6 linked regions of the Homo sapiens genome follow. The protein of the gene in region 3 purifies or fractionates together with the protein of the main gene of each other region. This does not show direct contact. Each region holds a gene or a part of one and is shown on either strand. Other genes may lie near its edges.

Region 1 (4,266 bases), on a different chromosome or scaffold from region 3:
AGAATCGAGGAGTAGAATGGTGGTTTCCAGGGACTGGAGGGCAGGGGAAAATCAGGAGTTATTAATCAACAGGCATAAAGTCTCAGTCAAGCAAGATGCATAAGCTCTAAAGATCTGCTATACAGCATTGCACCTATCAACAATACATATCAACAATAATGTATTATACACGTAAAATTTTGTTAAGAAGGCAGGCCCGGGTGCAGTGGCATACGCCTGTAATCCTGGCACTTTGGGAAGCCAAGGCAGGCAGATAACCTGAGGACAGGAGTTCAAGACCAGCCTGGCCAACATGGTAAAACCCTGTCTCTACTAAAAATATAAAAACTAGCTGGGTGCGGTGGCCAGCTACTCAAGAGGCTGAGGCAGGAGAATCCCTTGAACCCGGGAGGCAGAGGTTGCAGTGAGCGGAGAGCACGTCACTGCACTCCAGTCTGGGCAACAAGCAAGACAATGTCTCAAAAAAAAATTTTTTTTTTGTTCAGAGGATAGATCTCATGTTACATATTCTTTCCACAATAATTTTTTTAAGTCTAAAAAATTGGACATAAATGTTCATTATGGGATTGTTTAAAAAACTTACATTCTATCCACACAGATCAATATTATGCAACCCTTAATAATGATGACCTAGTTTTATGATGAAAGACATTAATTATAAATTATATAGCAAAAACGCAACCAATAGAGGATTGGTCCATTTAAAATGTATGCATGTTCATCTAAATGAAAATCTGTTTACAATGGTTTTCTATGTTTATGCATTTCTCTATTACCTAAAATTCTTATAATGAGCATATATTTTTTAAGGAAAAAACAATACCAATGTTTTTGAAAAATACAAATGTAAACTTTAAGAACTTCACACAAACCACATACCACCAATATATTTAAAATTGTCTGCATTATGATACATTTTAGTCATATGTTAAGATTATAAATTTCTATGATTATTTATATGTTGTTCTTATTAAAATTTACATTAATTCATTTTCCTTAAGCTTTCTTTAAGGAATTTTTTTGGTATCAATATCAATTTTACATCTTCCTAGACTTTTGTTCTGGAATGTAAATGAGTATAAATACTTAATTGCTCAGCCAAATACCAAACACTTCAATCCACAGGCTCTGTGCCTTTGGAACAGATGATTATGAAAATAAATGGCTCTGCAGAGTTCACATTTACTAGAAGTGTCAAAAAATAAAGATGGATTACAAAAGCTCTAAAAAATGTGTGGCTTGTAGTGTGTAATGGTTTTCAAAAGGGATGAGTGTATTTGCATGTGTGTTAGGTTTGTGCGTAAATGCACATACCTGTATCTTTCATAAGTATATGTGAGAATTCCTGTTTACGCTCATGGTGTGTACTTTCTCATAGGTAATAAAATCTGTTATGCATATGCTTATCTGTACCTCCAAGGCAAGCCACATTTGCTTTCGGGTTATGTTCAGGAAACCAGCCTCAACTTGTCTGAAAAGAGTTTCAGTGTTGGGCCTGCTCCACTCTGGCCACCAGCCATGGAGATGGGCTATTTTTGGCAAAGGTGCAGAGTAGAAGGGCAACGCAGGCCGCGGCCCAGGAAGTCAGTCGACGAGGGCGCGCGAGGCACTTCAGCACCACGGACATAGGCAAGCCTGAGCCAAGTCCTTTCCCGCGGAGGAAGATCGCTCCTCCGGAGCTACCCCCAGCCCTCTGGACCTACCCCCAGCCCTCTGGACCCACCCCCAGCACTCTGGACGTGGGGGGTTACTATCTCCAGGTCCTCGATCAACACTCGGACCCGAGCTTTCCGCCTCGCTCCTCGCGGAGCCGGGTGAAAGAAAACCTGGCCCGAGATGCAGGTCCGCGCTGAGCCTTCATCCGCCGCAACACGAGTCTCTTTCCTGCCGGCCCGCGCGACCCTTCTTCCCTCTCCTCCTCTCAAATGAGGCCAAATGGGTGCACGTGGCGTAGAAATTCTACAGCGCCCAGAGCACTGTGAGGAAAGATTCGCCTTTTCCTCCCCGTGGCTGCTGGAGGCTGTGCGGACTTGCCCTGAGCCTTCTCCGCCACTCTCGGCCGTGACGAGGCCCTTCCTCCACTAACCCTTGCCCTCGTCTTCCCTTGGGAAAAGATGTCTACAAACCGTCGATGTACCACGAAAATCTCAGCGCCCACAGACTGGCGTTCAAGAGTCATGGACATGAGACAAGAGAGTAATGGAAAATACAAATTCTTGGCCATATTTCTAAAATCATCCAGCCTTTTTTAAAACTTGTATTTGAAATTGATCCCATATGACGCCACAGTGACTCACCCCTTGCTTGGGTTGGCTACTGGGCGAGAGGAAAGCAACAGCCCCTGGCCTTCATCATGGACGCTGCAGGAGGGCCCAGACACGCGACAGCGGAAAGAAACGGGAAACCGGGCCGTAGCCGATGCTGGCCCTCCCGTCCCCGTGTCCCGGTTCTCCAGGAGGGCAGCACAGAGAAATGCGGGCCCCGCGGCCTTTCAGGCGTCGTGCAGAGCACCCCGAAGTCTGCAAAGCGGGCGGGGCGCGTCGCCCCCAGCCCGGCCCTTACCCAAAAAGACTGTTGTGCCCCTTAGGTGTGGCGGCTAAACGCGGGTGTGTGGAGTTCGGGGTCCGCTCTCATTCCCTTGTCGGGCGGCCGGGCAGGCAGGATCAAGGTCCCAGTCCGCCGCCGCCGACCGGCTCCCGGGGCCCGGTTACCTGCGTGTCGTGGCGAGGAAGGTGCCCCGGAGGCGACTGACGCGGGCGTGCCCTCGCCTGGGAAAATCGAGGCGGGCGCTGCCCGGAGTACTGCGGAGGGAGAGGGGCGCCGCCGCGCGGACTCTGCGCCTGCGCTCTCCGCCCTCCGCCGCCCCCACCCCACAACCTGACTGGCGCCGGAGTTGGAGACTGCGGGGGACGCTCAGGGTTGTGCCTGAACTGAAGGACTTCCTCTACCCGCGAGGTGGGAGGGTCCACGGGAAAGCGCCCGCCCGGGCCCCTCTAGCTTACGCCCTTGGAGGGCGCTTGTTTGAAGCAATTGCCTGTCTGCCAGGGCTACGTAGTCCGCTGCAAGTGGGCACGGAGGCAGTTTCTGTCCATTTCCACCCATTGTTTGCGCTTAAAAGTCGCAAGTCTATTCCTTCATGTTTAAATATGTGTCCAGCATCGGAAAATCGTGGTCCGGAAAAGTCTTCGGGCATCCCCGAGTCCACCCGCCATTTTACTGATAAGGTCTCTGAGGGAAGGGTCTTGACACTGCACAGCTGGTTCTTCTACCCAAGTGCATATGCCCCAGTCCCAAGTGGAATGAATATAGCCTCTTGGAAACAGACTGGTCATTAAAAGCAGTGGATTTGATGGGTCCAGGGGACAGGCAAGAAAGGGTAAGGGCTGAACCAAGGTGCTGGCTGTGGGAAAAAACAGGAGGTGCTTGCTGGTTTTTCCTCTGTCCCTTCAGACCCACTCTCCACTCTGCTCTGTGACTCAGGACTGACCTTTATGGGCTACGTCAACTATAATCTGGCTTTCAATTGGTTTTGGCAAGTGGGAGGCACCTGCAGATCAGAAGGCAGGATGTGATTCAGGACCTCCCCTGCATCCCCAGCGGGCCACCCTGTTAGCAGTGGCTATGTTCTTCATCTGAAAGCCATTACTCCCATCCTGTGGCCCTCTCCTGCAGTTTTCTCCAGGTTCTGGTTACCACTAACTACCCTTGCCCCTTCAGGCCTGGAGTGGGTAATGACGCCCAGAGGTTTCCTTTAACCCCATCCACACCTTTTTAAATAGTCCCTTCATTAAACTCTCCTCAACTATCCCATCTTTTCCCCACCTTTCCAGGACGCTATAATAGATTTTAGTCCATTGCGGTTGGCAAAATTCATGAGGACAAAAATATATGTAAAAGAAATACGGGGCTTTTAAAAGGCGAGAAGTCTTCCAGAGCCATCTTGACAGTTCCCTGGGCTCCAGGCAGCCAGCATGCTAGGTGGTCTCCCCACTGGGCCCCATAGCCCGAGGGTGCTAGTTTAGGTAGACCCAAGAATGGAATTCAGACTGCTCATAAACAGTGTGATCACCAAAGGGCTGGGGATCATTTCAGAGTCCAGCATAACAGGATTTTGGATTCCTCTTGAGGTAGAGAGACAATCTAGATCTTTATAGAGCAAGTGCTGGTGCTCTCCCAACTACAGCTGGGCTGCTTTTGAATGAGTCAATATTCTTAGGACACTTAAGAGAGTCCTGGAAACAGTGTCTGACAAGTGTGCTTAACAAG
Region 2 (3,500 bases), on a different chromosome or scaffold from region 3:
AGCCTGGGCAACATGGTGAAACCCCGTCTCTACTAAAAATACAAAAAATTAGCCAGGCATGGTGGCATGTGCCTGTAATCCCAGCTACCTGGGAGGCTGAGGCAGGAGAATCGCTTGAACCTGGGAGGTGGAGGTTGCAGTGAGCCGAGATCATGCCTCCAGCCTGGGTGACTAAGTGAGACTGTCTCAAAACAAAACAAAACAAAACAAAATTGTAAGAAAATAAACTTCTGTTATATTGTTATATTATATTGTTGAGCCACCTGGTCTGTTACTTGGTTATGGCAACACTAGCAAACTAATACATAGGCTGAGGGGGCTCTTCAAAATCTTTATCCTCAGTTGCAAACCACCATAGCCTGCCCTGTGGACATTACTGGAGGCCCAGCCAACCACTAGCAAACCTGGACGAAATGAGTCTAGCTCTGGCTATGAAGAGCTGTGTCTCCTTCATTTATTCAAAGGGAGTGGAATAAAATGCAGACAATAAGATCTGGGCCTAAGGAGGCTGAGACAGAGAAAAAGCAACACACGGTTTAGTGCGTCGATGAAGCTGCGTCCAGAAGGACTGCCAGCAGTGACCTGATCAAGACACGTGATCAGCATATGAACGGTGGTTTTAGGGTTGAGGAAGTCAGATCCGTCTTGACTCCTACGGGCATGAGCCCAGGACATTGACCATAAAGTTTACTTCACCTCCTCAAGGTGGTCTCCAGGGGCCGCCAGCTGGCAGTTAGGATGTGCTACTGAGATCGTAACACTTACTTTTGCATCCACTCGAGAAACTTCTTCTTTGTCCTGAGCACAGGCACTGCGTATTTCTCTCCATTCTTAAAATACTTCAACGTAGGAAACTCTGAGATGTGGAATCTTTCTGCCAGGGCCTTGTTGACAGTGGCATCGACAGCTGCAAGGACACCAGAGCTCTGGGATGGGGGAAAGGCCAACCATGCATTACAGCCTCAGATGCGGTGCTGGTGGAACACAGGAGCCCAGACGCTGCCCCCACAACCCATCCTGGACCTGCTGGAATTTAACTGGGGTGGCTAGCCCAGTGGGCTCCCATATCCCAGGGAACAACTGAACATTGGCACGGCCATCATTTCTCATTTATGAGCTGAGATGAGGCTTTTGAATCTGCCCCACCAGCCACGTTGAGTAGATTGGCACCTGTTCCTGTTAGCCAGGGTCCCAGAGAAAAGAGGGAGCAGGCAGAGGTCACCTGGATGGGCACGGGAACATGGGCCAGTAGTCTTTCTGCCCCCTCTAGGATCCCATCTGTCTAAGATGTTCTACTTGGGCACACAGAGGTACTGCTGGCCTCCACGGACCACGGGAGCTGCAGCAGGGCTTGCAGGGGAAAGTCATAATGATTCCACCTGTCAGTGATTCTTTCAAAGAGAACGGTGAGGGGGAAGGAAAGGAAGCTTACATCCGCTTCTCCATGGAGGGCTTCTGCTGCCTTCTCAAACTCCGGCTTCATTTTCTTACAGTGGCCACACCCTGTGGGGAGAGATCAAGAGAAACCATTCTTATGGCACAGAGGCCCTCGGGATGCTCCCCTGCGCCGCCTCTGTAAGGCAGCTCAGTCCCATTCCCAGACACCTGAGAAAAGCAGCAGCAGCACCAGCTCAAAGAAAAGAAATATTTTGCATAATCCACCAGAAGTGGGTTGGGGTAGTGGGAAGGTACCCCAGACACAAAAATAAAACAACTGCATAAATAATACGGGCAACTGGTGTGCCAGGTACTGACCAGTGCCTTACAGCCTCATAACTACCCCACAAAGTAGGAACTGACATTATCTCCATTCTATGGATTAGACAATTGAGGCACCAAGAGGGCAGGTGACTGCCCAAGGCCATATACACAGCCATGGTCACAGAGCTGGGTTGAAAACCCAACCATCTGGTGAGAGGCCCTAGCTGCAGGCAGCGTGTAGGTTGTGGCACCATGCTGTGATCACCATCATCATCTTCTCTGGACAGAAGGCAGTCTGAGGCCTTGAGCTGGGCACAAAAATTCACAGAAGCATAAGTATGGGACATAATTACATTCTAATTGTCCCCATATGACATGATGGGAATTTTTTGGGATAGAAACTGCTCTGTCCTTTTCTTTCTTTTTTTTTTGTTTTGAGATAGAGTCTTGCTCTGTCTCCCAGGCTGGAGTGCAGTGGCGCCATCTCTGCTTACCGCAAGCTCCGCCTCCTGGGTTCATGCCATTCTCCTGCTTCAGCCTCCCACGTAGCTGGGACTACAGGCACCCGCCACCACGCCCGGCTAATTTTTTTTGTACTTTTTCAATAGAGATGGGGTTTCACTGTGTTAGCCAGGATGGTCTCGATCTCCTGACCTCGTGATCCACCCACCTCGGCCTCCCAAAGTGCTGGGATTACAGGCGTGAGCCACCGCGCCCAGCCTGCTCTGTGCTTTTCTTACAGCTGCATGAACACAGTAAGATGTCAGAAATAATAAAATTTGATGCATTAAAAAGAAATTAAGCACTTTGTGTAAATGACAGACCTTGACATTTGTACATTGTTTTCATTTTAATAGAAAGAGTACTTTCTGGCCTCTGATGCTGGAGGGACTGGGAGGTGAGGGGTCTGCAGACTGGCTCAGGATGGAGGCTGCTCAGAAGGTAAGCCTGGCTGTGCGGGGACCATGCATTAACTAGGATCAGCGGATGACAGGTCGTGACTCAACCTTCTCAGGGGTGTGCCACTGTGTGGGAGCTGAGAACGCTATAATTCTACTACTGATTGTTAGGAAAAAGAAAGACAAGAAGAAAGCAAGACAGAAAGTCAAACAGTGTAATCAGAGGAGACCTCCCACTGAGCTACGGAATCGGCTTTCCTGCCTCCAGCTGAGCACCCGGCAGGGGTGAAAGCTCCTGTCTCCTCCTCCAAGGCCATTTCTGCAGAACTCAGCTCCAGGTGAGACATGAACCTGTCTCGTTCTTAATCTCTCCATTTCACTCCTGCCTGTACCTGGCTTCCTCAGCTCATCCTCACCCTGTCCCTCCCAGGGACAAGGGACCCCGGAGTGGCTACTCCCCACTTAACTGATAACAGAAAACCAAACTGATCCTTGAGCTCCCAGGCAGTGTTGTGAAGCTCCTCCTCTGGACAGAGCACTGGAGACATGACTCGGTCAAGGGCACTGACCCTCATGGAATGCAGCCCAGGGAGTGGCTACAGTGCTTAGCCACATCAACATGTCAGCTCTTCCCAGGTGGATCCAAGGAAGAGAGACACTGCTAACCCTCAAGTGGGAGGCTCCACAACAAGAAGAGGAGGAACTGCTGGGTATACAGGCACCTCTGCTGCCATTATCTAGGGAGCTGCCTACTCCTGTTGGGCTATGATGCAGAAGAAAGGGTAGAAAAGGCATCAGCCCTTAGAATCTTCCAGCATAATGACAGAGAGGACCATGGTCTTTGGTCCAGAGGGGAATAGAGTGGCACACATGATGCCTTCAAGGGATGAACCAGAGGAA
Region 3 (3,500 bases):
TCTATAAAATGAAGAGACTGAATAGGGTTCCATGCTATTTCTTCACAGGGAAGAGTTGGGCACTCACAAGTCCCTCTCCTCCCACTGTACTGTGCACTCAATGGAGATACTCACTCAATAATCCTCATTTCCCTGGCACCTGTGGTACAGTGTCTAAAACATGCATAGTATGAGCTTATTAAGTGCCTTTTGAATTAGTCATGTAGATAGAGAATTCATTCGTATTCAGAATGTGAATGGGGAAGGATACAAGTAACTCATCAAAGCACTCCACTCCACTCCAGATGTCAGACATGCTACCGTGAGCACATCTGGCTTTCTAGGCTATACTGCTCCCTGAAGACTAGTGTCACACACGAAGAGCTCTAGTCCGGGAGAACAACTCTATTAGACTTGCATCAGTTGCTCACTCCTGCACTATCCCTTCCTCTCTCCTGCAGTATCTTCTAAGTATGTGAAAAGTATAACTTCTACTATATATGTAATGGGTAGTAAATTTGTGAGAGTCATGACTAACAACTGCTACAAGCTGAAAGCATTGTTTTTGTTTGCTTTTTTGAGACAGGGTCTCACTCTGTCATCCAGGCTGGAGTGCAGTGGTGCAATCATAGCTCACTGCAGCCTCAACTTCCCAGGCTCAAGCGATCCTCCCACCTCAGCCTCCCAAGTAGCTGGGACTACAGGTGCGTGCCACCATGCCTGGCTAATTTTTGTATTTGTTGTAGAGATGGGGTTTCACTTTGTTGCCCAGGCTGGCCTTGAACTCCTGGGCTCAAGTGATCTGCCCGCTTTGGCCTCTCAAAGTGCTGAGATTACAGGTGTGAGCCACCACACCCAGCCAGTTTTTCAAAGGTTTGAATAAGTTGATATGGATATGCCTAATTCATAAAAGATCAATTAATGAAAATAGAATGTTTTTAAGAATCTTTGATGTTTAGTTCAAGAACAGCCATACTATTGCATAGCATGTCTTTGGTGCCAGAGGCTGCATGGACCAGTACTTCTGACCATAATATAAATCTTATATGCCTAGAAATCAGGAAAAGGACATCCTCTTCCTCGCCAGGCATGTTACTACATGCCATTGAATAGATCGAATTTTTCATAGATACAAAACATCAGACGTAGTCTTGTGAAACTTTCAGCACTTACAGGACTATGTTTCCTGTATCCCTTTAAGATCACCTGTAGGCTGGGTGCAGTGGTTCATACCTGTAATCCCAGCACTTTGGGAGGCCGAGGCAGGTGGATTACTTGAGCTCAGCAGTTCAAGAGTTCAAGACAAGCCTGGGCAATATGGCAAAACCCCACCTCTACCAAAAATACAATTAGCTGGGCATGGTGGTGCATGCCTGTGGTACCAGCTACTTGGGAGGCTGAGGTGGGAGGATCGCTGGAGCCCAGAAAAGGCTGCAGTAAGCCATGATCGTGCCACTGCACTCCAGCCTGGGTGATAGAGTGAGACCCTATCTCAAAAAATGAAAAAGAAAAAGAAACCACCTGTAGGCTGGGCACAATGGCTCGTGTCTGTAATCTCAGCACTTTGGGTGGCTGAGGAGGGAGGATTGCTTGAGGCCAGGAATCCTAGACCAGCCTGGGCAACAAAGTGAGATCCCCATCTCGACAAAAAATACCAAAAGTTAGCCAGGCGTGTTGGTATTTGCCTGTAGTCCCAGCTGTTTAGGAGGCTGAGGCGAGAAGACTGCTTGAGCCCCAAGAAGCTGAGGCTGCAGTGAGCCTGATCGCGCCACTGCCCTGCAGCCTGGGCAACAAAGCAAGACCCTGTCTAAAAAAAAAAAAAATTCACCTCTCTACTAGCTCACAAGGTGGCAAGTTTCTAGAATACAGGCGTCTTTGTGTCTACCTATATGATTTGACAAGTAGAGCAATCACAGTATATTAATCATTTCAGTCATTATTTTATTTTTTTAACTCTGTCGCTCAGGCTGGAGTGCAGTGGTGCAATCTCGGCTCACTGAAACCTCTGCCTCCCGGGTTCAAGCGATTCTCCTGCCTCAGCCTCCCAAGTAGCTGGGACTACAGGTGCCTGCCACCATGCCTGGCTAAGTTTTAGTAGAGATGAAGTTTCATCATATTGACCAGGCTGGTCTCTGACCTTGTGATCTGCCCACCTCGGCCTCCCAAAGTGCTGGGATTACAGGCGTGAGCCACTGAGCCTGGCCCCATTTCAGTCTTTAAAAACCATTAAGTCAGTCACCTTACCTCACAATTCATGTTATTTTTCAGCCCTTGAATGTACTTGTCCAATTCAAGCCTGAAAGTATGTTCTTAAGGAAGCAATAAAGGATGAATAATGAAGACAGTATTTCATCTCTCAACAAGAAATATAAAATCTCTCAAATAATGTGAGCTGCAAATGCAAACAAGCCAAGGCAAAATGGCCACATGAAGGTATGAAATTCAACTAAATACACGAGGAGTAGAAAAGCTTTTTGGAGGTTGGTAGTAATATTCTTCCACCTGCCTTCCCATGTTTTCCTTCCTGATGTTCTCAAAAACCAAAGAAAGGATATAGCTCAAGTCCTTTTTCAGACCCTCCTAAAAAACAGACCACATATTCTGAAGGGTTACGTTCAGAGTCTATCGTTACTGTTTCAGGAAGCAGTTTTTCATTTTGGAAAAGGCAGTAATAACAACCAACTCGGTAACCTGGAATTCTAGAAAAGAAAGAAAATGTAAAATGCATTATTTTGGTTACTCATGCATCTATAATTTTGTGGACTGCTCTGAATTCTGGTCATCTTGATCTGGCAACACCATTAAACTGCCCACTAACTCAGAGCTTCCCAGACTTCTCGTTGGTGTACTTGCAGCAGCAAAGAAAAATGAATGTATACCCTGGAGGGCTTTAGTTAAAGCAGCCACTAACATACATGAAATTTCTTTGAATTCTCCTGTCTTATGTGAAAAATTCACACAAATTTCACTCTAGTTCATACCCATGTTTATATTAAAAAAAAGTATGTTCTCCCCTCTCCCAAAGCTTCACAAATTGATGTTTAAGGCAGATGTGCCTGAAGGTGGCCTTATCCTTGGGAAGTGGCCTCAAACTCCTGAGGACCTGTATGCTAACTTCACGGTCTGAGTTGAACTAGAATAAAGAGGTGTAATGGAGGCCGGGCACAGTGGCTCACACCTGTAATCCCAGCACTTTGGGAGGCCAAGGCGGGTGAATCACCTGAGGTCAGGAGTTCGAGACCAGCCTGGCCAACATGGTGAAACCCCATCTCTACTAAAAATACAAAAATTAGCCGGGTATGGTGGTGCATGCCTGTAATCCCAGCTATTCGGGAGGCTGAGGCAGGAGAATTGCTTGAACCAGGGAGGCGGAGGTTGCAGTAAGCCAAGATCATGCTACTGTACTCCAGTCTGGGCAACAGAGTGAGACTCTGTCTTAAAAAAAACAAAACAAAACAAAAAAGGAGAGGTGTAATGGAAAGACAGTTGGAATTGGACTAAGAATGCTCATGTTTAAGCCT
Region 4 (3,500 bases), on a different chromosome or scaffold from region 3:
GGCTGTTGGCAGTGAACATTCATTTATTCACTTGGCAATTATTTACTGAGTACCTGCCCTGGACCAGGCCTTTGGAACCCAATAGAGGCTGGGAAGACAAGGTCCTGCCCTGTGGTTCTTACAGGGAGTGGGAAACAGATAAAAACCAAGGGTTCCAAGGGAAGCCTGCAGGGACTGACTTGGGGACTCAAGCAGGAAAGCAGGAATGCTTTCCAGACTAGGTGGTTAGGAACAGCTGAGGAGCAAAATTAGAGCTGAGACCTCAAAGTGGAAGCCTGGCCTCCGTGTCATGAGAAGGGGTGGAGGTGGCAGCCATCAGGAAGGAAGGGGGCTGGGGAGAGGGCTGCAGGTATCCTTCAGTAGTGAGTGTGATGCCTCTTGATCTGGTGTCAGTCCCTAAGGATATGGGCTGTCCCCCTAAGATGATACATGGACACTCAGAATGTCACTGAGGGACCACTGGAGATCGTGCAGGCTGAGACTAGGGAGGATGGGGTGCCCCTGAGGTTCCCCAGTATGCCTGGCAATGGTAGGATTCTGCCCACTGCTCCTCGCAGGCTCTGATGGCTGGCCTTGGGCTTAGGAGCATGTTGCTCTGACAAGTAGGGCTGTGGATGGCCCATCATGGCCTGGTTGGAGCTGCTGTTAAACCAGGGTTGCCATATGGGCCCCACAGGCTCCAGATTGCTGCCAGGGAGCAACTGCCAGCCAGCAAGCAGGCCCAGGGTGCAGCACAGGCAGAATGAGGCCAGGGCCTGAGAGGTCTCCTGGGTGGAGGTAAGGCAGGATGCCAGTGTTTTCCCTTGGCACCCATGCAGTGGGTAAGCAGATGGAGGCACCCTTAAGGGCAGAATGGGGCCTAGAAACTGCCCTCGTTACTTTCAGTGAAAGGTTTTGTCCTTGGAACTTGAGAACGCTCTCTTACTCTTTGTTCTAGAGGAACATTCAGAAGGCCTGGGTGGATGCCCCTCTTGCCAAAATCAGAGGTAGGAAGCTCGTAGGACAAAGGCAGCGGAGGGCAGAAGATAGCTCCTGGGGACCGGAGACAGGCCCAGAGGTGCTCACTGAGTGCTGCTTCCTCTCCCCGATGCCAGCCTCAAGCAGGGCCGTGGGTACAAGGAGGAGCAAATCTGCACCAGGCTTTCTGCCTTACCCAGGAAGGAAAAGTGCTTGGTACAGGCAGACCAGGATCAGTGGTGGGGGAGGTTCCTGGAGGAGAGGGGGCTGCACCTGCTGGACAGTGAGGGGTAGGGAAGATTTGGAAAGGAAGGTGTGGGGGTGGCTGTTAGCTGAGGAAGAGGGGAAAAGGCATGGAAATTGCGTAAAGGTTCTGGCCTTTTCTGTAGATCCTTCTGAATCCCAGGGTCTCAGGGGAGGGAGGAGGGCTTGGGGCAAGGGCTGAGAGGTGGGGACCACAGGGGCTGGGGCTGGGGCTGGATCCACTTGCTCAGGGTGGCAGGGGCTAGGCCAGAAGACCCCAGAGTTCCTGTCACAGCCTACCCACAGGAGAGCAAGGGAGCACCCCTACATGCAACCCTGGACAGGAGGGGAGAGTGAGGATTGATACCCTAGTTTCTTTTCAGGTTTTGGGGGTCCTGCAGGAGGAGCTCTGGGCCAGGCTGGAAATCAAACCAGATTCAAGCTGTGAATGGGGCACAAAGAATGTGGGAGGATTTGGGGTAAACCACAGGGCTGTGCTTTCCCCGAGGCAGAGGTAGTCATGCTCCTGGTAGTCAGAAACTGCCAGTTTAGGGAAGAGCAGGATGATGGCAGAAGTCCCTGGATTCCCCGCCCAAGGTGGTCCCCCAAGTCTTACCCACTTCCTCCCTCTCCTCAGGGCATTGTACAGGGTTTCTTACTCTGGCCTAGAGGTCCTAGATGTTTTCTCAGGCTGCCTAGGCCCTCATCTTCAAGGTTGTACAATGGGGGACCGGACCTAGGGGCCTTCTTAGGTTCCTCTTGCATCAGAGTTTTTGGGAGTTGACCTGGGCTGATGCCTAGGGGCTCCAGTCCCCCACCCCTACCTTAGTCCACTGGGGGCCGTCAGCCTCCCATAGGAACTCCGGAGACCACCAGCTCAGGGCCTTGCCTAGAGCCACTGCTCTACACGCTACAGAGTCTGGCCACTGCCTGTCTCTGGTTCTTTTTACATGTTGTAGAGACGGGGTGTCAGTATGTTGCCCAGGCTGGACTTGAACTCCTGGGCTCAAGAGATCCTCCTGCCTCAGCCTCTTGAGTAACTGGGACTACAGGCATGTGCTACCTTACCGGGTCCCTTTACTTTTTGCCTGCATGTGGCTTTGAGCCTGGGAAGAGTTGAGGGGAGGGAATGTGCTGAAGTTTTCCCTTTCTTCTTCAGCCCTGGGGAGCCACAGGCAGGTGCTGAGTGGCTGGAGCTACAGTTAGTATTGGCAGCCCAGCCAATAGGTGGGGCCCACCAGTCCCCAGGCCGGGCCTAACTGTGTGGGCTCCCAGGCTGGAGGGAGCCTCTTGAGTCCCCAGACTCAGTCTGGGCACTGTCTGCAGCTAACAATGTCAAAAGGAGGCATGGGGCCAGTGTGGTGGCTCACGCCTGTAATCCCAGCACTTTGGGAGGCCGAGGCGGGTGGATCACAAGGTCAGGAGTTCAAGACCAGCCTGGCCAACATGGTAAAACCCCATCTCTACTAAAAATACAAAAATTAGCCGGGTGTGGTGGTGCACACCTGTAATCCTAGCTACTCAGGAGGCTTAGGCAGGAGAATCACTTGAACCTTGGAGGCGAAGGTTGCAGTGAGCCGAGATTGTGCCACTGCACTCCAGCCTGGGTGACAGAGCAAGACTCTGTCTCAAAAAAAAAAAAAGAGGCATGAAGGTGAAGGGGGAGTGGTGTATGTGTCATTAGGACGGGGACCCACGGGTCTCTTGTTCATCAGCCTCAGCATGTCCCCATCCAGAAGGGCTGCTGGGTTCCTCAGGGCCTCCTCTCCTTGCCATTTGATGCTGCTCCTTCTCTTGCAGGTTTTGTACATCAGGAAGAAGAAGAGGTAATTCCCCACCCAAACCCAAATCCCACCCAAAACTTGAGGCCATGGGGAGTGCTGGGCTGGGCTCCGAAGGAAGTGGGTGAAAAGCTGATCAGGGAGTCAAGGCCTGTCCTGCCCATTCATGGTTGGGGGTGACCACTTTCCTTTGGGGAGGGTTGAGGGCCCCCCTTGCACAAGGATCTCACACACAGGGCAGGCAGGTGTGAGGATTCTAGATAACTGGGTATAATCCTGGGACTGGGGATGGCAGGGAGGGGGAAGGCTGGGATTACTCCCACCCAACTGCCCAGCCACCCTTGCCCTGCTGCTCTGAGCTGACTGCTACTGGCTCCCCAGTCCCACCTGAGACTCAGACGCTGTGGATTACAGCAAGGCCCTAGCCTAGGTGATCTCTGTGGGGCCCATGGATGACAGCTACTTGGCGTATGGCCTTACCCTGGAGTGGGTAACTGCTGCCTCCCTGGCTACCCATTT
Region 5 (3,500 bases), on a different chromosome or scaffold from region 3:
TGAGTGTGGTGATGTGCACCTGCAGTTCTAGCTACTTGGAGGCTGAGGTGGGAGGGTTGCTGGAGCCCAGGAGATGGAGGCTGCAGTGAGCTGTGATCACACTGCTGTACCCCCGCCTGGTGACAGAGTGAGATCCTGTCTCAAAAAAAAAAAAAAAAAAAAAAAGAATGTAGTGAAATAATATATGTCAAAGCGCTGGAATTATTTTTTCTGGGATCATTAATTTTGCCATAGAACAACCCTGGGAGCATGCTTAGTGAAATTGTCAACATAGAGACATTGTACAGTTCACCATGCTTTGTTTTTCAGTCCCCAAAAGAAACTAAACATGCTTTGTTTTTCAGTCCCCAAAAGGTTTGCAGTATCAGTTTTCAAATGCATTTATAGATCATTCAGAATTCATATTAAAACTACCCTTGATGCTTATTTAAATACTGGACTTTTAATAATAGTTGCTGTGGCCTTTACTAAAAGCATTATAAGTCCTTAATTATACATTATTTATTAGTATTGGGAATTGGCTGAAAGAAATACCATCCCAGGTCAATTAGATCAACAACTACAGCATATGTCAGACAGTGGTACCAAAGCATGTCTTTTGGGAAAACAAGGTTTATGTCTAAGATTGAATTAGTTGTAGTAAAGTGGAAATACCTGGAGGTAGTGTTAGGGGAGCCTTTTGAAAAGCAATTTATTGGGGCTGAGTGCAGTAGCTCATGCCTGTAATCCCAGCACTTTGGGAGGCCACAGTGAGAGGACTGCTTGAGGCCAGCCTGGGCAACATAGTGAGACCCCATCTGTACAAAAAATTAAAATTAGCCAAGTATGGTGGTGCATACAGTCCTGGCTACTTGGGGGGCTGACATGGAAAGATCCTTTGAACCCAGGAGTTCAAAAATTCAGTAAGCTATGATCATAACACTGCTCCCTAGCCTGAGTGACAGAGTGAGACTCTGTCTCTTAAAAAAAGAAAACAATTTATTAAAGCAATGATTTTCAAACTTTAGTGTACATCAGGTTTACCTAGAAACTGCTGGGCCCCACTTCCAGCTTCTGATTTGGTACATCTGGGGTAGGGCCTGAGACTTTGCATTTCTAAGAAATTCCCAGATGCTGTTGCTGCTGTCCAGAGACCATATTTGAGACCCATGATATTAAACCAATCCAATGTACTGGTAACAGTCTAAAAGATGGATAGTTTAAAGTGTGGGTGAGATTGTGGGAAAACAGAAACACTGGAGTACTGCTGATGGGAGTGTAATTTGTTATAAACACTTTAGGAAATATCCTGATAATACCAAATAAAGTTGAAGTCCACCATGGATGGATCTAAGAAAATTTAGAATATAAAAAGCAAATCATAGACTGATAAGTATAATATGATGTCATTTATATACATTCTTTAAAAGCATACATAAATCACTATATTATTTGTAGATACATGTATGAAAATGGGAATTAGATTGGAAGGGTACCCATGAAATATGATAGTACCAAAACCCCTCAAACCATGAGGAACTATGTCTGAACCAGTGGGAATATTGTGCTTCTAGTCAAGGAATGTGATTGATCATTGTGTTCCTAAGCTGCTGTCCTACAGAGAGAAAAAATAAATTGATTCCTCTTGACAAATGAGTTCCACAAAGTTGTATGTGTTTTGGGCGGTAGAATTCTTAAACATGCATTCTTCTCAAATTTTGAGCTGCTTCCTAGCTCCTAATGTCCTGGTTATTTAGTGAATGTCTGTGTTCACTTTATCTGCCCAAGACCAAGACAAAGGGTGGTGCTGAGGAAGAGCCTTCTCCTGTGAAAGCCGGGCCCCTACCTCACCTCTTCCTGACCCAGCAAAGACACAGATAATCCCATTCTGTTCCCCAGTTTAGTAAGTGGACATGACTCTCCACTTCTGTGCTTTGTTCTGATGGAAAAGGACTATTTTCTTTCACAGAAAAGACAATTATGGAGCCATATTAATGTGGTTCAAATTCCATTTCTATCACTCATTAGCTGTTGGATTTCGAACAAGTTTTTTTTTTTTTTTTTTTTTTTTTTGAGACAGGGTCTCATTCTGTCACCCAGGCTGGAGTGCAGGCACGATCATGGCCCACTGCAGCCTCGACATCCCAGGCTCAAGCAATCCTTCTACCTCAGCTCCCCCGAGTAGCTGGGACCACAGAATCATGCCACCATAATTGGCTCATTTTTGTATTTCTTGTAGGGACAGGTTTCACCATGTTGTCCAGGCTGGTCTCGAATTCCTGAGCACAAGCAATCTGCCTGCCTTGGCCTCCCAAAGTGCTGGGATTACAGGCATATGCTACCATACCCAGCTGTTTAACCTTTCTAAGTTTAGTTTGTGATTTTGTTGTGGTCTTTTGACAAAAGGTTTTTTTTTGTTTTGTTTTAGAACAGCTTTATTGAGATAATTCATGTACCATACAATTCATATACCATACAATTCATCCATATATAGTGTACAGACAAAAATGTTATATTAACCACCTAAATTTAGTATCTCAATGGTTAGTACTCATCTAAATGCATAATTTATGCTAAATGTGAAATAGGTCTATTTTTTAAAAAAATATTTTATTTTGTTATTTTATTTTATTTTATTTTATTTTATTTTATTTTATTTTATTTTATTTGAGACAGGGTCTCAGTTTATTGCCTTGCTGGAGTGCAGTGTCACAATCACGGCTCACTGGAGCCTTGACTTCCCAGGCTCAGGCAATCCTGTCACCTCAGTCCCCCAAGTAGCTGGGTCTACAGGTACGCACTATCAGGCCCAGCTAATTTTTAAATTTTTTGTAGAGATGGGGTCTCAACTCACCTTGTTGCCCAGGCTGGTCTTGAATTCCTGGCCTCAAGCGATGCTTCTGTCTCAGTCTCCCAAAGTGCTGGGATTACAGGCATGAGCCACCGTACTGGCCTCTTTTGTTTTTTTAATAGAGATGATTATTTTGTCCTTTCTTTCTTTATACCATGCTTTCTCATATGATAGTTTCTAGTACTGTTCAACTGTGATCAAAGTATGCTTTGTTTTATAGCTTATTCTTCTCTTTGGAGGAATACCTTATCTCTGGAGACTTTCTGGACGGTTCTGTGGTTATGCTGGCTTTGGACCAGAATATGAGGTATGTGATTCATTAGCATGTATTTGTCATGGTATTTCTTTTAGCTTGGCAGGCTTTCCACTAAAGTTAATTTTTTGGCTTCTGCCAATGTTAAGATTTGCCTCTCTGTTTGCATAGTCCTTGGTTACCCATGCTGTATTGGCATAACATTAGTTACAATAACAAATCCCAGAATATCACAGGCTTATTTGCAATGGTTTATTTCTCAATCACGTAATAGTCCAGTGTGAGTATTTTTAGTTATCAGGTGACTTTCTTCCATGTGGTAAGCCAAGAATCCAGGCTCTTTATCTTAGGGATTTGTCTGTATGATTTAAGGTACCTTTCATATAGTGCCTGTGTAATAAAAAAGGAATTGTTTTG
Region 6 (3,965 bases), on a different chromosome or scaffold from region 3:
AGCAAATCTCAAAAGGTTACATACTGGATAATTCCATTTGTATAGAATTTTGGAAATTACAAAATGATAAAAATGGAAACCAGATTAGTGGTTGCCAGGGACTGGGTGAGGTTTGGAAAGAGGGAAGTAGATTTGGCTATACATCTATAGCCATGAGAATACTTTGGTGATGGAGCTCTGCTGTGTTTTCACTGTATCAATGTCAATATCTGGGCTGTGATGTCCTGTTTTGCATGATGATACCACTGGGGCAAACCAGGTAAAGGGTGCATGGGGATCTCTCTGTATTATTTCTTACAACAGTATGTGAATCTATAAATACCTCACAATAAAAAGTTGAATTTAAAAATAAAGGCCGGATGCAATGGCTCATGCCTGTAATCCCAACACTTTGGAAGGCTGAGGGTGGGCGATTGCCTGAGCCCAGGAGTTCCAGACCAGCCTGGGCAACATGGCAAAACCCTGTCTCTACAAAAATTTAAAAAATAAAATAAACCCATCCGGATAAGGTGGCTCATGCCTGTAGTCCTAGCATTCTGGGAGGCCAAGGGAGGACTGAGCCCAGAAGTTTGAGGCCAGCCTGGGCAATGTAGTAAGATCCCATTTCTACAAAAAATACAAAAATTATCTGGGTGTGGTGGCACGTGCCTGTGGTCCCAGCTACTCAGGAGGCTGAGGTGGAAGATCACCTTTAGCCCAGGAGTTGGAGGCTGCAGTGAGCTGTGATCACACCACTGCACTCCAGCCTGGGTGAGAGTAAGACCCTGTCTCTAAAAAAATTGATTAAAAAAAAAAAAACCCAATAGTAAGCAGATTTTAAAAGAAAAATAAAAGCCTGTGGGGGTGGGTTTTGGGGGCAATCAATGTGAAGGTAAATTTGAGGTCGCACCCAGTGCTGCAGCCGACTCTGCCTCCACACTTTGGCATCCTTGCTGTGTCCACCAGCAGAGAGGTGGTGGCTGGGCTGCCTCCACCTACCTTGTCCACACTTTCTCCTTCCTTCAGGGCTACGAATGGAAAATGGTAGGAAATCTTTAGTGCTTGATACACTGCTACATTCTGCCTGCCCTTATTTTTTTCTGGGCAGAATATTTAGTCCAGAGCAAGGTGAACCTGGTGAATGGCTGGGTTTTGTTACACTGCCCAAGAGGCTGAGGACTCCTCTCGAGCTGACAGCGCTGATTCGGCCTCCTGCTAATCTGTTTTATTGAGCAGAGCGAAGTGGACTGGTGAAAGAGGGTGGAATAATAGCAGGTGTCCCCCATCGGGTCTATTCTGTGTTCCTTCGTCTTTAAAGTAGCCTGTCCTGGGAGGTATCCTGAGGGTGGGTGCAGGTCTGCCTCCGTAGGAACAATCCCCACCATGCACGTCTCTCACGCCAAGCAGCTGATCTCACAAGAACACAATTACCCAGTTTTGCAAATGAGGAAACGAAAACTCCTCGTTTTGAAGGAAATGAGGAAATGGAGCAAAGCCACTGGAGACCCAGCCCCTAGGCTGGCGGGGAGCCCGAGCCTGTCCAACCCCAAACCCGGGCAGGAAGGACAGAGGTCGGGATGGAAGGCTGCCTCCTCAACTTACCCGCTGTGTGGCTTGGGGCGAGTTCCTTGCCCACTCTGTGGCCCGTGGCCTCGTGTGGGAAGCGGGACCATCACAGTGCCGGGCTCCGCGGGCTGCTAGGAGGACGCGCGGCGCACTGCGGGCCGGGAACGTGCTGCGCGCTGACACCGGGTCAGCTCCCTGTGATGGGACTTCCTTTCCAAAAACGTAGGCGTTTTCCCGGGTCGCAGTCGCAGTCGGGAGACTGAGGGTTAGGGCGCGGCCGCGGGGTCTCCTGGGCCGGGGCGCGGCCCACGTCTCAGGCCTCTGCGGCTCTGACCAGAAGCCGCTGCGCCTTTGGCCGCTTCCCACCCGTCCCGTCCCCGCAATCCCAGGCCCAGGGTTACAGCGGCTCAGCTCTCTTCCTCTCGCGAATCTGCACACTGCTTCAGTGGTCTGGACCCTGGCTGCATAGGCAGATCCCAAGAGGAACTTTTAAAACAAGGATCCTCTGACCCCACTCCCAAAGATTCCGGTTTCATTGCGTGGGTATCAGTATTGTTAAAAATGCCCTGGCCTCTCCTGCCTGACCAGGGTAGAGAGCCTGGGCTTCAGCTCCTCTCCCAGCAAGCTCCTGCAGGTCTGTGAGGAAGCCCCGCAGGAGGAGCAATAGCTTCAGGGCTGGGGAGATTCGTAAATTTGCCTCCAGATTGGAGACCCCATTTCATGTGAGGTCTCCACCCTTTTGGATGGAAGCTGGACATAGTTTAGTTGGTGGAGTTGCTTTGTTCTGTGGCCGGAGGCTGTCCAACCCTCCCCCAACCACTGTCTGGCAAGAATGGGTTGCAATTGCAATGGAAAAGAAGCTTCACAAGAGAAGGGCAGCATAGTTTTTACTTTCCATGAGCCGAAAGCAAAGAATGGAGCTGGAGGCATTTTGCTGTAGTTTCAGCCTTCCCAACAGTTTGCAGAAGAAGAGATGAGTGAGCCAGAGATGAAAGCTTCCTGAAGAACTTCAGTCCAACCTCTAGTTCAGAGGATATTATTAGCCATCATTTCAGCCAATGGCCAGAGAATGGGTTAAACATAGAAATTAAGGGTTACTCACGTTTGGCGGCATCAAGTGGCAATCTTGCAGCCAGGAGCAGAAATCCCAGGAAATAGTAGAGACATTCCATGCTGAATTCTCACGGACGCAGGCACTCAAGGTTTAACTCTGAATTCCTCTGGGCCCGTCCACCAAGAGCAACAGTGTTCTTCTGGCATCTGTGGTGCCTCCCTCTCTATTTTAATTAAATACAGGGCCTCGGGGAGGATCATGTGATGGTATTAAGCGGCACTGCCTGATCTGGTCTCTCAAGTTCAACCTCTTACAACTCATGTGCTTATGACTCACTCCTTCTTGGCATCTATTTATTCACTTTTCAGATGCACATTATTTCAATTTTGTGATTCCACATTTACTAGATTCAAGGAGTTTTTTTCCTATAGACTCTATTTCAATATTCATTTTTTTTTTTTGAGATGGAGTCTCACACTGTCTCCCAGGCTGGAGTGCAATGGCACGATCTCAGCTCACTGCAACTTCCACCTCCCAGGTTCAAGCCATTCTCCTGCCTCAGCCTCCTGAGTAGCTGGAATTACAGGTGCCCGCCACCATGCCCGGCTAATTTTTTGTATTTTTAGTAGAGGCAGGTTTCACTATGTTGGCCAGGCTGGTCTCGATCTCCTGACCTTGTGATCTGCCCGCCTCGGCTTCCCAAAGTGCTGGGATTACAGGCATGAGCCACCGCGCCTGGCTCAATATTCTTTACCAAATAAAATTTCAATCCTCCAGCCTCACTGATTATCGACTTACTGTGGTTCCTATACTGCATCAGGCACCCAGCTCACGTTTAGAGTTCACAGTTACGCACCCTTTCCTAAGATGTAGTTGTCCACCTGCTCCTGTGCTCGTGATTGCTTGTATATTTTTTTCCTCCAAGAGGAAGCAAAGATGGGGGAGGTGTCTTATCAATCATTTGAAATTGTGGAATACATAAGTGGATGATAACATGAATGTTGTGCCAGGATGTGCTGGAAACAGCTGCCCAGGCCTCTGGTAGCTGAGAAATTTACTCAAAAGCACATTTAGAATATCTGTGCAATTCCATATAACTTTTGTAATAACCTGCATAATTTTTGGTAACTGCTCTCAAAGCATTTATGTGTTGCATTACTCAGAGCCAATTGCATAAAACGTTCTGTGTATTTTTTCATATTATAGAAAGCAGGCATTAAATGTACAAACAAGTGTGTCTGTAAGATAAATTTATACAGTCAAATCATTCCTGGTTACAGAGTATGCAGAAAATGTGGCAACATGAAAACTTTACCATATGTGACCTTTCTCAAACTCACATTCACATGGCCATTTTCAGTGCAGT

Evidence for each region.
Region 1: the proteins of C17orf75 (region 3) and SLC35G2 fractionate together in Homo sapiens (co-fractionation; one large-scale study listed by BioGRID). This does not show direct contact.
Region 2: the proteins of C17orf75 (region 3) and PDIA5 fractionate together in Homo sapiens (co-fractionation; one large-scale study listed by BioGRID). This does not show direct contact.
Region 4: the proteins of C17orf75 (region 3) and C3orf18 fractionate together in Homo sapiens (co-fractionation; one large-scale study listed by BioGRID). This does not show direct contact.
Region 5: the proteins of C17orf75 (region 3) and ZMPSTE24 fractionate together in Homo sapiens (co-fractionation; one large-scale study listed by BioGRID). This does not show direct contact.
Region 6: the proteins of C17orf75 (region 3) and GPNMB purify together in Homo sapiens (affinity purification with mass spectrometry; one large-scale study listed by BioGRID and IntAct). This does not show direct contact.

Annotation. Positions count from the first base shown.
Region 1 is NC_000003.12:136,817,660-136,821,925, reverse strand, and holds the start of SLC35G2 (solute carrier family 35 member G2), read right to left. Parts: upstream 2,801-4,266; 5' UTR 2,298-2,800; exon of another isoform or gene 1,414-2,297; intron 1-1,413.
Region 2 is NC_000003.12:123,143,525-123,147,024, reverse strand, and holds part of PDIA5 (protein disulfide-isomerase A5 precursor), read right to left. Parts: intron 1,504-3,500; coding exon 1,433-1,503; intron 927-1,432; coding exon 766-926; intron 1-765.
Region 3 is NC_000017.11:32,335,674-32,339,173, forward strand, and holds part of C17orf75 (protein Njmu-R1), read right to left. Parts: intron 2,679-3,500; coding exon 2,535-2,678; intron 2,282-2,534; coding exon 2,224-2,281; intron 1-2,223. UniProt on the Homo sapiens protein: As component of the WDR11 complex acts together with TBC1D23 to facilitate the golgin-mediated capture of vesicles generated using AP-1. May have a role in spermatogenesis.
Region 4 is NC_000003.12:50,561,248-50,564,747, reverse strand, and holds part of C3orf18 (uncharacterized protein C3orf18), read left to right. Parts: intron 1-3,000; coding exon 3,001-3,026; intron 3,027-3,500.
Region 5 is NC_000001.11:40,264,736-40,268,235, forward strand, and holds part of ZMPSTE24 (CAAX prenyl protease 1 homolog), read left to right. Parts: intron 1-3,050; coding exon 3,051-3,137; intron 3,138-3,500. UniProt on the Homo sapiens protein: Transmembrane metalloprotease whose catalytic activity is critical for processing lamin A/LMNA on the inner nuclear membrane and clearing clogged translocons on the endoplasmic reticulum.
Region 6 is NC_000007.14:23,245,610-23,249,574, reverse strand, and holds the start of GPNMB (transmembrane glycoprotein NMB isoform b precursor), read right to left. Parts: upstream 2,801-3,965; 5' UTR 2,718-2,800; coding exon 2,648-2,717; intron 1-2,647. UniProt on the Homo sapiens protein: Could be a melanogenic enzyme.